2 separate regions of the Homo sapiens genome follow, and region 1 is linked to region 2. The links come from fine-mapping of genetic effects on gene expression. A gene starts in region 2. The other region holds a variant in brackets. All regions are shown on one strand. Distances are from middle to middle.

Region 1 (2,905 bases), 710 kb before region 2:
TTTCAGAAGGCAGCTAGCTGTTAAGAAGGGGGTTGGATTCCCTCCATCAAGCTCCCACACTGGCTGGGTTCCCAGGTGGCAGATCCTGGGAAGAGCTTGGGAGTTAGTGACTGGCTGGGTTGCAGATGGCTTGCTCTGGGAATATGCTGTCTTGGTCACACAGGCCCAAGGTGGATAAGTATGGTCCTCGTGGGTGCTGGGGAAGGGAAAGCAACAAGGGCAAGGGAGAGATGGAGAGCGAGGAGAGGGCAGGGCGGTCGGATGGAGCTCCACGGGCTTGACTAATGGGAAACCCGACTCTGCCACGCTTCGTGGAGACCCTGGGTTCCCTTTGGTTCTGATCTGTTGACTGTCCCCAGCTTTGTGTCCAACATCTGGCCTATATAGGTCAGCACCTCCAACCTCTTTTTGGAACTGCAGCACCCAAAGTTTGTTTGATTTCCCAACACCCCAGGGCAGCATCACCACCAGAAGTGCTGAAGGGGGAGAGGAGGAAACCGAGGCACAGAGCCATGCTGCGCCTGAGGTCGAGAGGCTGGGAAGTGGGTGACATGAGATCCAATCCCAGCCCTGCCAGCCTCCAAAGCCTCTTCACTTTCTTCTCCCAGCATCCCAAGGCCTTGGGTCTCCTGGCCCCAGGCCAGAGCTTTCCGGTCCCCACGTCAGCGCCAGGAATCACCAAGCTCAGGCTCTGCAGCAAGTGACACACTGGAGGTGGCAGGCTGCCAATATTTTTTTCCCCCAATTTTTTCAATTAAGTGAATGCTTGGATTAGGGCCAAAATACAAGTGCTTGTGGTGTCTTGCGTCAGATGAGACACTTAGGGCTGTGTTCCTACTGCACTCTGTCCACAGGGCACGCAGCGAAGGCTCAGGTGGCTGGTTGAGCTGAGGGCTCCGCTTATCCCTGTGTGCAGAGGTGTGCCAAATGGGGAAATGGCGGCAGGAGTAGGGGGAGAGGAGTAGCCTCCAAAGTGGGAATCTGATCTCTCTCCCCCTGCCTCAAACTCTTCAGCTCATTCATTCATTCATTTGGCATATACACAGAGACCTACTGTGCACCAAGCTCTGCTCGAAGGGCCTCAATCGAGAAAGAAAACACACCACACAGGCACAACGTGGGGCTTAGGGGCCTGTGCAGTCTGCCCCTCCTCTGCTCCAGCCTGGCTGGCTTTCTCTTGCCTCCAGGACTCAATGCCTGCCACTGCCTCTGGCGGGAACATTTCCTCTCCCTGCCCTGCTCAGCTCCTCTTCATTTCTCCAGCATCAGCCTAGAAGTCACCTCTCCTTGGAAGCCTTCCTGGACACCCCAAGTCTCAGTCTAGCTCCCACTCTCTGAGTTCCCACAGGGCTAGGGCCACCCTCTCTCAGAACCTGTTCCTCTAGGGGTGCTGGTCTCTTTGCATTACTGCACCCCCACTGCCCTGGGGGCCCTTGGGGCAGGGCCGGGTTTGTCTATTCACCATGGTCCCCCCAGTGCCTGGCGACAATGAGCTCTCAGGAAATGCCCGGTAAAAGAGACAAAAAGCCGAAACAGGGCCACACAGTCAAAAACCAAGGTGA[C/G]CTCACTCAAGGCTCTCTGTGTCCAGAGAGTAACAATGCTCGTGAAATAGCTGAATGAACAGCTCTATTGCCAAGGGTACCAGAAACAGAGCTGGCTTTGTCACAGAGGGAATGCAGGCATGGGACCCAACCCAAAAAGGGAAGTCCACGTTCCACCCCAGAGTTTCTCTGAAGAGGTAATGGCAAAAAACAGAATACCCAGGAGTGATTTAAACTCCAGGGGGAATGCCTCATCCCACTGTATGTCAGAGACAGTAAAGCTGAGGGAATTCTTTGAGGTGTTGGAACTGTTCTGTAGTGGAGGTTACAGGAACCTGCACATCATAACATGCTACACCAAAAAACAAAATTTTACTGCGTTACACCACAAAAGGGAATTTTACAGCATCCACGTAAAGTAAAAAATTAAAAATAACAATCATGCTTTAATGTCATTAAAAAAAAAAAAAAGATGGCAGGGTGTGGTGGTTCATGCCTGTAATCCCAGCACTTTGGGAGGCCAAGGCGGGCAGATCACCTGAGGTCGGGAGTTCGAGACCAGCCTGACCAATGTGGTGAAACCCCGTCTCTACTAAAAATACAAAAATTAGCCGGCCTGTGGTGGTGCGCACCTGTAGTCCCAGCTACTCAGGAGGCTAAGGTGGGAGAATCACTTGAACCCTGGAGGTGGAGGCTGCAGTGAGGCAAGATCACGCCACTGCACTCCAGCCTGGGCCACAGAAACAGAAAAAACAGAAAAAAAAAAAAGAAAAAAAAAAAACAAAAACAAAAACAAAACAAAAAAAAAACCCCAAAAAAAAACCACAGGCATCGGCTTTAGAATACCTGACTATGAATCCTGCCTCTATAGCCTGATGCTGCTGTGACTTTGCAAATCACCTCACAGCTCTGAGTTTCCATTTCTTCACACCTGGAAAATGGAGAGAACAGTACCTACTTTATAGGGTTGGCTGAGGGCTAAAGGCGCTAATGCATGTCAGGTGCTTGGCACACCATCTGGTCACAGACAGCTTCCAGGGCCATCACTAATAACCCATTATGGAGATTAGACACTGGAGGCCCCAACCGAGTAGCCATCTTCCTTGGGCCAACTCAAATCTTGCAAAGTGAGATATGTTAAGAGGAAAAGTCGGGAATGTCAAGCTGTAAAAACCAGGTATGTGTGTGCGTGCGTGCGCGCACGCGCGCGCACACACACACACACACACACACACACACACACACACACAGCTGCCCACCCTCTGGGCTCCCCTAACTCATGGAATCTTATCCAGCGGCATGGGCAGCAGGAACTATTTCCAGGGTTGGCCAGGCCAGGCATCTCCACTCTTGCCGACGACTGA
Region 2 (2,905 bases):
TGCTGGGATTACAGGCATGAGCCACCGTGCCCGGCCTAGGCTTTGCCACTTTCAAGATAGGTAATCTTGCAACAGGGTTGATTGTTTTTTGTTTTAATTTACTCTAAGCCCTACTCCTGATCTGTGATAATAGTGTAGTACAATTTCAAGGGTGGTTGTGAGGATTAAGAGAGATGAACATGGTCGGGCACAGTGGCTCACGCCTGTAATCCCAGCACTTTGGGAGGCCGAGGCGGGTGGATCACGAGGTCAGTTCGAGACCAACCTGACCAATATGGTGAACCCCGTGTCTATGAAAAATACAAAAATTAGCTGGGCATGGTGGCACGCACCTGTAATCCCAGCTACTCAGGAGGCTGAGGCAGGAGAATTGCTTGAACCTGGGAGGTAGAGTTTGCAGTGAGCCAAGATTGTGCCATTGCACTCCAGCCTGGGCAACAGAGCGAGACTCCGCCACAAAAAAAAAAAAAAAAAAAGAGAGAGAGATGAACATTCAAGTCCTAAGCCTTTAGGTCCTCACAATCTATGCTTGCTGAAGTGACCCGAACAAATGCAGATGGAGTGGGGTCGAGTGGGGGAAACGCTTTCTAGGGAGAGGGAACACCACATTCTAAGGCTACACATCCAGAAGGAGCTTGAGCAATCCAGGAAGGGCGCAGGGTGCGGTGGCTGATGGCCGGGGTGGCTGATGGCCTTGAGGACCAGCTAAGAAACTTGGATTATTTACTAACAAAAATAAAAGAGCCACCATTTGTTGAGGGTTTGCTCTGACATTTCCATCAAAACTACCTTAGCAAGGTAGATTTAATAAATCCAGTTGTATACAAAAGGGAAACACGAGAAGCCATAGAAGGGCTGCATACAGGTAGGTGACTTGATCAATTTCGTGTTTTACAAAGATCCCTTAGATCATGTGTTGGAGTGATAGGAGGTACTCTACCGACCTGCCTTGAACTCCATACTTTAAAAAATATATGACGTTTATCATTTCCTCTTTTACTCCACAATTTATACTCACTGTAGAAAATATTAAAAATATAAGAAAGTTTGAAGAAACAAAAAATTATTACTGGTACTTTCCAGAGACATCTCAATTGATACTTTTCTTCCAGTCTTTTTTTTTCTATGTAAAAAATATATAGTTATTAGAATGCCTGACAGAAGGAAGATGGAAAGAGACCACTGTGAAGCGTTCTTGATATTCCCTCTTCCCTTCCTCTCCATGTTATTAGGGCCATACCAAGAGGAGAGGCTGATTTCCCTACACGTGTCAGGGAAAGTCCCAACTCTGCGCAGTGACCCTCGCTTGCCATTTTCGCCGGTCTCTAGGGGGCGCTGCCCCGAGACTGGGTGGGGAGGGAAAGAAGGTGGTGCGAAAACGCGTTTGAACTTGGGTCCTGCCGCTGCCCGTAGCCGGCGTCCCCAACATGGCGGCTCCCCAAGACGTCCACGTCCGGATCTGTAACCAAGAGATTGTCAAATTTGACCTGGAGGTGAAGGCGCTTATTCAGGTACTGATCCCGGGACCCCTGCCGGGCTCCAGCAGCCCTAACCCAAGCTCTGCTGGTCTGTGAGCTTGGCAGTGTCACTCCCGAACTTTCCCCACTTGGTTTCCCAGACCACAGGCTCCGCCCCATGGTCGGCTACCCCCCCGGTCCCCATTTGGTTGTGTCCCGGTGACTGCTGGCCTTGATCCTTTTTCCGGGTGCCGCCGGATCTCCCATCCCCAGAGCACCCCACTGTTCTCCGCCCCTGACTCAGCTACTGCTTCGGGGCTCGGCTTTGCCCCTTCCACCTGCAGCCCTGGTCGTCGCCCCGCCCCTGACTACCTCACAACCTACCTGTCACCCTGCTTGGCCCCGCCCTCTGACGCTGCTTCAGCATCCTCTGGTAGCGTCCGGGAGGCAGCTAGCCCCGCCCCCTGCTGGCCAGCTCTCCTGGCATCCAAGGCCACCTGGCACGGGAGGCACCGGGTGAAACGAATGTAACCTGGACCGTAGTTGTGATTTTATGCTTGAGGAAATCGAGTACGGCGCCAAGGCCTAGGTTAGAAGGCATACCTGGGTCAGTGGCAAAACTGGGACCTGGACTGTGAAAGTCAACCTAGGAATAACACCTTAGAGTGTTACCCCGTTTGAACAGATAGGAAATGAAGTGTTTCGCCTTAAGCCATTTAAGGGTAGAGGTAAAATAAACGAGTGGACTTAGGCAAGAATTGGGAGTGTAGACACGGTTCCATGAGTTCAGCAAAAAGAAACCGAGTTTTAAACCTTGTTTTTGCTTGTTTGTTTTTGTTTTTTTGAGACGGAGTCTCGCTCTGTCGCCCAGGCTGGAGTGCAGTGGCGCGATCTCGACTCGCGGCAAGCTCCGCCTCCCGGGTTCCCGCCATTCTCCTGCCTCAGCCTCCTGAGTAGCTGGGACTACAGGCACCCGCCACCACGCCCGGCTAATTTTTGTGTTTTGCTTAGTAGAGACGGGGTTTCACCGTGTTAGCCAGGATGGTCTCGATCTCCTGACCTCGTGATCCGCCCGCCTCGGCCTCCCAAATTGCTGGGATTACAGGCGTGAGCCACCGCGCCCGGCCTAAACCTTGGTTTTTAAAAATAATCATTTTCAACAAAGTCACTAAACATTAGATGTAGACTCAGAGTTTGTAACAAGGTGTGGCAAAAAGTGCAGGAAAATAGGGCTCCCCAGATAAACCAGATGCAGAATAAACCAAATTAGATGCAGAATAAACAAATACGGTGCAAAGAAGTGTGATTAAATGAATAAGCCAGAGAAAAAGTGAAATTTGATGCAGATATTTAAAACTTCTTGAACTTCACTTCTCTGATGTATACATTACAAAACTTCTGGGCCAATTATAGAAAAATAAACAGGTTTCATACAAATGAAATTACAT

Evidence for each region.
Region 1: its variant is fine-mapped to the expression of BNIP1 in aorta (GTEx, PIP 0.98).

Annotation. Positions count from the first base shown.
Region 1 is chr5:172,436,942-172,439,846 of GRCh38, forward strand. The region is part of intron 1 of SH3PXD2B (SH3 and PX domains 2B); the gene reads right to left. Among named protein-coding and RNA genes, the nearest start is that of SH3PXD2B, 16 kb to the right of the region's middle. The variant C/G (reference allele first, on the strand shown) is at 1,563.
Region 2 is chr5:173,143,119-173,146,023 of GRCh38, forward strand. BNIP1 (BCL2 interacting protein 1) reads left to right here and starts at 1,413. Exons shown (of 6, transcript NM_001205.3): 1 at 1,413-1,511. The coding sequence starts at 1,428. RefSeq lists enhancers at 1,606-2,134, 2,076-2,145.